Linked DNA regions of Homo sapiens: region 2 is linked to region 1. The links come from fine-mapping of genetic effects on gene expression. Tissue or cell type: whole blood. Region 1 holds a variant in brackets; the other region holds the start of a gene. All regions are shown on one strand. Distances are between the middles of the regions.

Region 1 (5,145 bases):
CGGCATGGTCTCGGCTCACTGCAACCTCCGCCTCCTGGGTTCAAGCGATTCTCCTGCCTCAGCCTCTTGAGTAGCTGGGATTAGTCAGGCCCGCCACCAGGCCTGACTAATTTTTTTTGTATTTTTAGTAGAGATGGGTTTTCACCATGTTGGCCAGGCTGGTCTCAAACTCCTGACTTCAAGAGATCTGCCTGCCTTGGCCTCCCAAAGTGCTGGGATTACAGGCGTGAGCCACCGCGCCTGGCCAATGCCACTGTTTTTGAGGTGGGAGGCTGGACTCACCTCCAGAGGTGGGACTTGGGTATGGGACCAAATTGAGGACTAGCTAAGCAGTTTCCCATAATACACGCCCACCAGTATGCCACGTCAGTTTACCGTTGCCATGGCAACACCTGGGAGTTACTGCCCCTTTCCATGCCAATAACCCCACAAGCCAAAAGTCATTACCCCTTCCCTAGAAATTTCTGCATAAACCGCGCCTTAATCTACATGTAATTAAAAGTAAGTATCGGGCTGAGCACACTGGCTCACGCCTGTAATCCCAGCATTTTGGGAGGCCAAAGCTGGCGGATCATCTGAGTGAAGAGTTTGAGACTAGCTTGGCCGACATTGTGAAACCCCATCTCTACTAACAATACAATAATTAGCCAGGCGTGGTGACGCCCGCCTGTAATCCCAGCTACTCAGGAGGCTGAAGTAGGAGAATTACTTGAACCCAGGAGGCGGAGGTTGCAGTGAGCCGAGATGGCGCCACTGACAGCACTCCAGCCTGGGTGATAGAGAGAGACTGTTGTCTAAAAAAAAAAAAAAAAAAAAAAAAAAAAAGGAGTCTATTTACAAGGGTGGAGGCAGTGGGTAGAAAGATACAGGCAGCCCAAGGCAACCGTACATCAAGAAGGGAGTTGGGGAAATAAATACCCACCCTCCAGTTTCTTGCCAGTGTCTCCCCATTGGGCAAACCGATGCAGAAAGCTAGAGGTTCAGAAAGCTCATTGTGGTTCATGCTGATCCCAAGGTATGGTCAGACTCCCAGGAGTATGGCGGGGAGAGGTGGAGAGTGGACCTGAAGAGGCAAACAAAAAATATCCAGCATAGTCCGGGCACAGCAGCTCACACCTGTAATTCCAGCACTTTGGGAAGCTGAGGTGTGAAGATCACTTGAGGCCAAGAGTTCGAGACCAGCCTGGACAACATAATGAGACTCATCTCTACAAAAAAAAAATTTTTTTTTAATTAGCCTGGCATGGTGGCATGCACCTGTAATTCCAGTTATTTCCAAGGCTGAGGAGGGAGGATGGCTTGAGCCTAGGAGTTTGAGGCTGCAGTGAGCTATGATTGTACCACTGCACTACAGCCTGGGCAACAGAGTGAGACCCTGTCTCAAAAAAAAAAGGGAAGAAAAGAAAAAAGAAAAACATCCAGCATAGTGTTCTATTTGTATTGTTATTGTATTTCTTATTGTGGCCTATGAGGCCCTTCAAGGTTTAGGCCTAACCTCTGCCTCCTCTTCCCACCCCACCCACTACATTCCTCTCTGAAACCCAGGGACTGACTGGGAAGGGATGGGAGACAACCTTCTGGAGTGATGGTGATGTTCTGATTCAAGATAAGGATTTTGGCGGCACGGGCCTGCACATTTGTCAGAATTCCTCTAACAATGTGCTTAAGTTTTGTGCATTTCAGCATATGTAAATTTTACCTGAAGAGGAGAAACTAAATAAATATGCTTTTCAACTTACTTTGAAATGCATTGAAAAGGCAAGAAGGAGTGATGGATAGATGGATGGAAAGGTGGGTAAATACTTGATAAAGCAAGTTGAGTAAGATGTTAATTAATTTAGAATCTAGGTGATGGGGCCAGGCACGGTGGCTCATGCCTGTAATCCCAGCACTTTGGGAGGCCAAGGCAGGCAGATGGCTTGAGTACAGGAGTTCGAGACCAGCCTGGGCAACAGGGCGAAATCCTATCTATCTCTACAAAAAAAAAATTAGCCAGGCGTGGTGGCACATGCCCCTAGTCCCAACTACTCAGGAGGCTGAGGTGGGAGGATCACCTGAGCCACAGAAGTCGAGGCTGAAGTGAGCCAAGATTGCACCACTACACTCCAGGCTGGGCTATGGGAGTGAGACCCTGTGTCCAAAGATAAAATAAAAATAGAGCTGGGCACGGTGGCTCACCCCTGTAATCCCAGCATTTTGGGAGGCCAAGGCGGATGAATCACTTGAGGCCAGGAGTTCAAGACCAGCCTGCCCAACATGGTGAAACCCCATCTCTACTAAAAATACAAAAATTAGCCAGGCGTGGTGGTGGGCACCTGTAATCCCAGCTACTCAGGAGGCTGAGGCAGGAGAATCGCTTGAACCTGGGAGGTGAAGGTTGCAGTGAGCCCAGATCACACCACTGCACTCCAGCCTGGGTGACAAAGTGAGACTCTGTCTCAAAAATAATAATAATAATCATACAAATAGAATCTAGGTGATGGGTATATATGAGTGTTCACTGTAAGATTATTTTAACTTCTCTATGTTTTAAATAATTCATTTTAAACATCTGTGCAAAAGTAAAAATAAAAATTTGGGAAAGTGTTGAGTCAGCAAAGGAATTTGGATTGGATTGATTGGTTGGAGGAACCAAGAAGAAATGAATTGCTCTGGGACTTTCCACAGAAACCACAACCGCTTCCCTGCAGCATAGAGCTGGCCTCCAGGAACAAACTGTGCCAGCTCTCAAGTCTCAGTTCTCCAGAAAGCCTGTCAGGAAAAAAGTGCAGAGAAGAGAAAGAGACAGCACCCTTGCTTCTCAGAAATCCTGTGATGAACAGATCTGCCTAACATCTGAAGTCATGCACTATTCATTCGACAAACTATAATTGAAACCCTCCTCTGTGCCCAGCCCTGAGATGTGTGTGTGGCACTGACAACATAGCCCCAGCCCTTCCCTCAGGAGACTCAAAGTCCAGGGGCAGAGACAGACACATCTTCCAGTGTTATGGTTTGGCTCCATGTCCCCACCCAAATCTCATCTCAAATTGTAATCCCCATGTGTGAGGGAATGACCTGGTGGGAGGTGATTGGATCATGGGGACGGTTTCTCACATGCTGTTTTTGTGCTGATGAGGGAGGTTTCACGAGATCTGTTGGTTTAAAAGTGGCAATTTCCGGCCGGGCGCGGTGGCTCACGCCTGTAATCCCAGCACTTTGGGAGGCC[G/A]AGGCGGGCGGATCACGAGGTCAGGAGATCGAGACCATCCCGGCTAAAACGGTGAAACCCCGTCTCTACTAAAAATACAAAAAATTAGCCGGGCGTAGTGGCGGGCGCCTGTAGTCCCAGCTACTTGGGAGGCTGAGGCAGGAGAATGGCGTGAATCCGGGAGGCGGAGCTTGCAGTGAGCCGAGATCCCGCCACTGCACTCCAGCCTGGGCGACAGAGCGAGACTCTGTCTCAAAAAAAAAAAAAAAAAAAAAAAAAAGTGGCAATTTCCTTTGCTCTCTCTCTCTCTCTCTCTGTCTCTCTCTCTCTTTCTCTGCTGCCGCCATGTAAGACATGCCTTACTTCCCATTGACCTTCTGCCATAATTGTAAGTTTCCTGAGTCCTCCTCAGCCATGCAGAATTGTGAGTCAATTAAACCTCTTTTCAGTCCAGGCGCAGTGGCTCAAACCTGTACTCCCAGCACTTTGGGAGGCCAAAGCAGGCAGATCATCTGAGGTCAGGAGTTCAAGACCATCCTGGCCAACATGGTGAAACCCCATCTCTCCTGAAAATGCAAAAATTAGCCAGGTATGGTGGCGGACACCTGTAACCTCAGCTACTTGGGAGGCTGAGGCAGGAGAATTGCTTGAACCCGGGAGGTGGAGGTTACACTGAGCCAACTTCTCTCTACTGCACTCTAGCCTGGACAACAGAGTAAGACCTTATATTAAAAAAAATAATAATAAATAAAGGCCAGGCATGATGGCTCATGTCTGTAATCCCAGCATTTTGGGAGGCCGAGCCAGGCAGATCATGAGGTCAGGAGTTCAAGATCAGCCTGACCAACATGGTGAAACCCTGTCTCTACTAAAAAATACAGAAATTAGCTGGGCATGGTGGCACACGCCTGTAATCCCAGCTACTCAGGAGGCTGAGGCAGGAGAATCACTTGAATCCGGGAGGCGGAGGTTTCAATGAGCCGAGATTGTGCCACTGCACTCCAGCCTGGGCAACAGAGCAAGACTGTGTCTCAAAAAAAATAATAAATTAAAAAAATAAAAACCTCTTTTCTTTATCAATTACCCAGCCTCAGGTAGAATCTTTATAGCAATGTGAGACCAGACCAATACATCCAGATAGCAACAATCCCAAGTGATCAAAACAATAATGGGGGAAGCCCCAAATGAGGCATGTGACCCAGACTGGTGGTCAGGAAAGATACCTGATGGAGAGGACATCCAAGCTAAGTCTTAAAGAAAGAGTAGGTGTCACCAGGTAGAGACGGAAGGACAATGGAAAAGCATTCCAGGCAGAAGGAACAGCAACTGCAAAGGTCTGGGAGTGAGCAGAAGAGTTTGATGCTCAAACTTTTCTGAACTGAACTTTTCTGAACTGAAAAGTTCAGTGTCATTGGAATGTGAAAGGAAGCAGAGGGTAGGGAGGGGTTAAAGGCAAGCATGCAGCAGTCACCAGTTCCTGTGTGGGCTTGTAAGCCATGGTAGGGCATTGGAATCTTACCCTGCGAGTGCTGGGGAGTCACAACAGGGTTATAGTCAGTAGGAGGACTTCACCAGTTTGTAAATGATTCCAATTGCAAAACAAGGGAAGGAGATGAGGGAATGTATCGGTCAGGATTGGCTAAGTTATGCTGCAGTGACAAACAGCTCCAGAATTCAGTGACTCAAAACAACAAAGGTTGGCTGGGTGCAGTGGCTTACGTCTGGAATCCCAGAACTTTCAGAGGCCAAGGAGGGAGAAGTGCTTGAGGCCAGGAGTTCAAGACCAGCCTGAGCAACATAGTGAGATTCCATCTCTTCAAAAAAAACTTTTAAAAATTACCTGGGCACGGTGTGCACACCTGTAGTCCCATCTACTCAGAAGCCTGAGACAGGAGGATCTCTTGAGCCCAGGAGTTCAAGGTTACCATGAGCCGTGATCGCACCACTGCACTCCAGCC
Region 2 (5,145 bases), 36 kb before region 1:
TTGGGGTGTTCTTGCACTGCTATAAAGAAATACCTGAGACTAGAAGTAATTTATAAGAAAAGAGGTTTGATTGGCTCAAGGTTCTGCAGCTGTACAGGAAGCGTGGTGCCAGCATCTCCTTCTGGGGAGGCCTCAGAGAGCTTTTACTTATGGCAAAAGGATGCAGGCCAGAGAAGGGGAGCGAGAGAGAGTAAGAAGGGGAGGTGCCACACACTTAAACAACCAGATCTGGCAAGGACTCACTCATCATTGCAAGGACAGCACCAAGTCATGAAGGATCTGCCCCCATAACCCAAACACCTTCCACCAGGTCGCATCTCCAACACTGGGAATTACATTTCAACATGAGATTTGGGCGGGGGACAAATATCCAAACTATGTCACGGAGCAAGAGGAGGTCCCTGGAGCTGTTGAAGCAGAAATGGGGTGAAGAATAGAGGTGGAGGGTGCTTAGGCTTCCAAGGTCTCTTCTAGGTGTGAGATGGAGGGATTCTGCGACCAAGTCACCTGGAGAGTGACTCAACAAGGTGACTGCTTTCCCAAGCACGAGCCCTCGGGGGACAGACGGGGGCTGAAAACTGGCACACATTCTTCCTGGATCCTTTGACATGTGATCATTCAAAGATAACAGTTCAAAGATAACAAAGGGATTGAAGCTTTACCAATCCCTTTCTTATTGTGGCATTTTCTCTATTAAAAATAAATACTCATTTATACTATAACTTACAGAATCAGTACCAATTCTGAAAGTATACAAAGCGTTGCCTTACTTTAAGGAAGGAGACCACTACTACTCCTGCTGCCCTCCTCCCCCGACCTTGCCTAGTTCACAAGACAGGAGGAAAGAGAGAAAGCAAAAAGTTGGAAAGAAACAGAAGTAAGATAAATAGCCAGTCAACCTTGGCACCACCACCCAGCCCTAGGAGTTAAAAAAAGTAATAATAATAACAGCAACCCCTGACCTAAACTACTTGTGTTATCTGTAAGTTCCAGACATTATATGAAAAAGCATTGCAAAACTTTCTGTTCTGTTACCTGATGCATGTAGCCCCCAGTCACGTTTCCCACGCTTGCTCGATTTATCACGACCCTTTCATGTGGACCCCTCGAAGTTGTAAGCCTTTAAAAAGGCCAAGAATTGGCCAGGCGTGGTGGCTCATGCCTGTAATCCCAGCACTTTGGGGGGCGGGCGGATCACGAGGTCAGGAGATCGAGACCATCCTGGCTAACACAGTGAAACCCCATCTCTACTAAAAATACAAAAAAATTAGCCGGGTGTGGTGGTGGGTGACTGTAGTCCCAGCTACTCGGGAGGCGGAGGCAGGAGAATGGCATGAAGTCGGGAGGCAGAGCTTGCAGTGAGCCGAGATTGCACCACTGCACTCCAGCCTGGGCAACAGAGGGAGACTCCAAAAAAAAAAAAAAAGGCCAAGAATTTATTTTTCAGGGAGCTCGGCTCTTAAGACGCAAGTCTGCTGAGGCTCCCGGCCAAATAAACCTCTTCCTTCTTTAATCCAGTATCTGAGGAGTTTTGTCTGCAGCTCATCCTGCTACAACTTCATGTCACACCTGGAAAGCTTACATAGGCCAGGGGTGGTGGCTCACGTCTGTAATCCCAGTACTCTGGGAGGCCGAGGTGGGCAGATCACCTGAGGTTAGGAGTTCAAGACCAGCCTGGTCAACACGGCGAAACCCCGTCTCTACTAAAAATACAAAAATTAGCCAGGTGTGGTGGCAGGTGCCTGTAATCCTAGCTGCTCAGGGGAGACTGAGGCATGAGAATCGCTTGAACCTGGGAGAGGGAGGTTGCAGTGAGCTGAGATCACGTCACTGCACTCCAGCCTGGGGGATAGAGAGAGGCTCTGTCTCCAAAAAAAAAATACAAAAAATTAGCCAGGCATGGTAGCTTATGCCTGTAATCCCAGCTACCTGGGAGGCTGTGGTAGGAGAATCACTTGAACCCAGGAGGAGGAGGTTGCAGGGAGCCAAGATTGTGCCATTGCACTCCAGCCTGGGCAAAAAGAGCAAAAGTCTGTCAAAAAGGGAAGGGAAGGGGAGGGGAAGGGAGGGGAGGGGAGGGAAGGGAAGGTTACATAGATGTGAAAGTGAACTGCCAGCCATGAGCAACAAATCCGAGTGACATGTCTTCTTCATGGTCCTGACACGGACGCGTGGGTTCGATCTGACAGCAGCCTGTGCCATCATAGCTACTGCTCATGCATGCATTCGGGGTGCCCAAAGTGATGCTGAGGGGGGCATTCCTAGATTCAACCCTCCAGGAGACCATGAGGAGGCTGGTGCGATAGCGCAATCAGATGAAGACGCCTGGGCTGCACAGGGGCCACTGCAAGTGAAGACTCAAGAGGCCAAGCTGACTCCCAGAGGCTAGGGCCACTAAGGTGGGTGCCGAGGCAGGGGCCAGGCTGGGAACATGAGAGGCCATTTGGGTAGGGAGATAAGTTCCGTGAGTGAGGGCCAAGGGTCTGACCTCCTAGTGTGGCTGGAGAAGCAGAGACAACAGAGTGCAAAAAGAGAAATGGGCCAGGCGAGGCCATCTGGCAACGCACTGCCCACCCTCCATTGCGTGCCTCTGGCTGCAAAAACAGGCAGGATCTTCCGGCCGGTTTGCCCGCCACTCACCTTCCGAGCATGCGCACCCTCCGAGATTGCCAGGAATTGACTTCTCTGTGGCCAATGAGGTGCCGCGTTCCTCCAGGCTCATCCAATGAACTTATCCGATGCTTTTGCATCCACCAATGGGGTTTCGAGTGCTGTGTGGCCAGGCTGGCCCGGCCTTGCGTCGTAAGAGAATGCCAAGCCCGGGGAGAAGGCGTTCCGGGCCTCAACTTTGGCGTCGTGAGATTCTTGTGAGGCGTCTGCCTGGAAGCCGGCAGCAATTTTGCTTCTTTAAAGAGAAAAAGAAGGCTAGGGACTCAGATTCCTGGATTCTGAGGAAAGAGAAGGCTGGGGACCCAGATCCTGGCTCTGAGGGGAACGAGGGTTGGGGGCCTGGGCTCCCGGGCCTGAGAGGGAGGGGACCAGAATGGTGTGTCCCGCAGGAAAAGGTGGTTGGAACCCAGACTCCTCGATCCCTACATAGGACGGGGCTGGGCTCTCAGAATCCCGGGTTCTGATGAGGCTGGGGCTGGGGCTGGGGGCCGAGATTCTGGGTCCCTGAGAGAATGTAAGGGACCCCTGAGACTGAGGGAGAAGCGGCCTTCAGGGCCACACTCCTGATCCTGAAGTTGGAGGGCACTGGGTGGCCGGGCCTGAGAATTAAAACCATGAAAAACTGGGGCGTGATAAACCTGTGAACTCGCTCCAGCTCACAAGCCGGTTAGGGACAGAACGACTTTAGAAGTCGTGGTCATATACACCATAAACCCCACTGTGAGGCCGGGCATCAGGGCTCACTCCTGGAATCCCAGCACTATGGGGGGACGAGGCGGGCAGATCACCTGAGATCAGGAGTTCGAGACCAGCCTGACCAACATGGTGAAACGTCATCTCTACTAAAAATACAAAAAATTCACTGGGTGTGGTGGCGGGCACCTGTAATCCCGGCTACTCGGGAGGCTGAGGCAGGAGAATTGCTTGAACCTGATAGGCAGAGGCAGTGAGCCGAGATTGCGCCACTGCACTCCAGCCTGGGCGACAGTGCAAGACTCCGTCTCAAAAAAAAAAAAAATGCAGATTAAAACACCCCACCCTGAAGTCAGTACTTGCCAGGACCTAGATTTGATCTCATGCACTCTGGCTGAAAAGTTAATTGCCTTCTCTCCATCAAATTCACAGATCCAGACCAGCTCCTCCCAGACCTCTCCAGAAGAAGCCATGGGAACCCCTCGTATCCAGCATTTGCTGATCCTCCTGGTCCTAGGAGCCTCCCTCCTGACCTGTGCGTATGGGGGACATAGGGGAGAGCCGTGTGTCACAGAAGGTGGACTGATGATGAAAAGGGAGCCGCCTTGGCCCATGGAGAAGTGCTTATCCTTTTCTTGTTTTCTCCTCAGCGGGCCTAGAGCTGTATTGTCAAAAGGGTCTGTCCATGACTGTGGAAGCAGATCCAGCCAATATGTTTAACTGGACCACAGAGGAAGTGGAGACTTGTGACAAAGGGGCACTTTGCCAGGAAACCATACTAATAATTAAAGCAGGTGAAATGAGATGGGGCATTTGGGCTGGGTAGGAGGGAGGTTGATTATCTCCATGCCAATGCTTGTTCCCTTCGTCCAGGCCAATTGTGACGGCCACCATCCATTTCCCCTCCTTCCTGTCTCATAACAGGGACTGAGACAGCCATTTTGGCCACGAAGGGCTGCATCCCGGAAGGGGAGGAGGCCATAACAATTGTCCAGCACTCTTCACCTCCCGGCCTGATCGTGACCTCCTACAGTAACTACTGTGAGGATTCCTTCTGTAATGACAAAGACAGCCTGTCTCAGTTTTGGGAGTTCAGTGAGACCACAGGTACCCTGGAAGTGGGGGAGATAGGTACTAAGAGAAACTCCATAAAGAGCTTGTGTATGGCCTCCCTTTGCATTCTGACTTGGCTTAGCCTAAGTGGTCCATACCCCAAAGTACCTCACAGTTCAAGTAATTTTATGTTTCTGAATTGTTCATTGGGATCTAAACACTGCTCAGAGCAGCGAGATACCAGTGAAGCCTGGAGTGTAAACTGGGTTTTGTGTTTATTAAGCAATAAGACAGGCTGGGTGAGGTGGATCGCCTGAGGTCAGGGGTTTGGGACCAGCTTGGCCAACATGGTGAAAACCTGTCTCTACTAAAAATACAAAAATTAGCTTAGCCTGGTGGCGCACACCTGTAATCCCAGATACTCGGGAAGCTGAGGCAGGAGAATTGCTTGAACCCAGGAGGCAGAGGTTGCAGTGAGCCAATATCACACCACTGCACTTCAGCCTGGGACAGAGAGCAAGACTCCATCAAAAAAAAAAAAAAAAAAAGCAATAAGACATCAGTGTAGGTTTCCGAACAGGGTGGTATTATCAGTCTAACAAGTATTGGTTTCCCACTGCTGCACGAGAACGGCCCAGTTCCCCAATTTACAAGGCCTGTAGTAACTTGGCCCTTCCTGTCTTTTCAGCTTCATTTCCCTCTCTTCCCTCTCTCATTTACTGTGTGCTA

Evidence for each region. PIP is the estimated chance that this variant, and not a neighbour inherited with it, causes the effect.
Region 2: it holds the start of TEX101, and the variant in region 1 is fine-mapped to the expression of TEX101 in whole blood (TOPMed, PIP 0.97).

What each region holds. Positions count from the first base shown.
Region 1 is chr19:43,448,020-43,453,164 of GRCh38, forward strand. No RefSeq gene overlaps it. Among named protein-coding and RNA genes, the nearest start is that of LYPD3, 15 kb to the right of the region's middle. The variant G/A (reference allele first, on the strand shown) is at 3,209.
Region 2 is chr19:43,412,086-43,417,230 of GRCh38, forward strand. It overlaps TEX101 (testis expressed 101), which reads left to right and starts at 2,805. Exons shown (of 6, transcript NM_001130011.3): 1 at 2,805-2,953; 2 at 3,796-3,898; 3 at 4,014-4,157; 4 at 4,288-4,470. The coding sequence starts at 3,835. RefSeq lists a silencer at 1,006-1,192.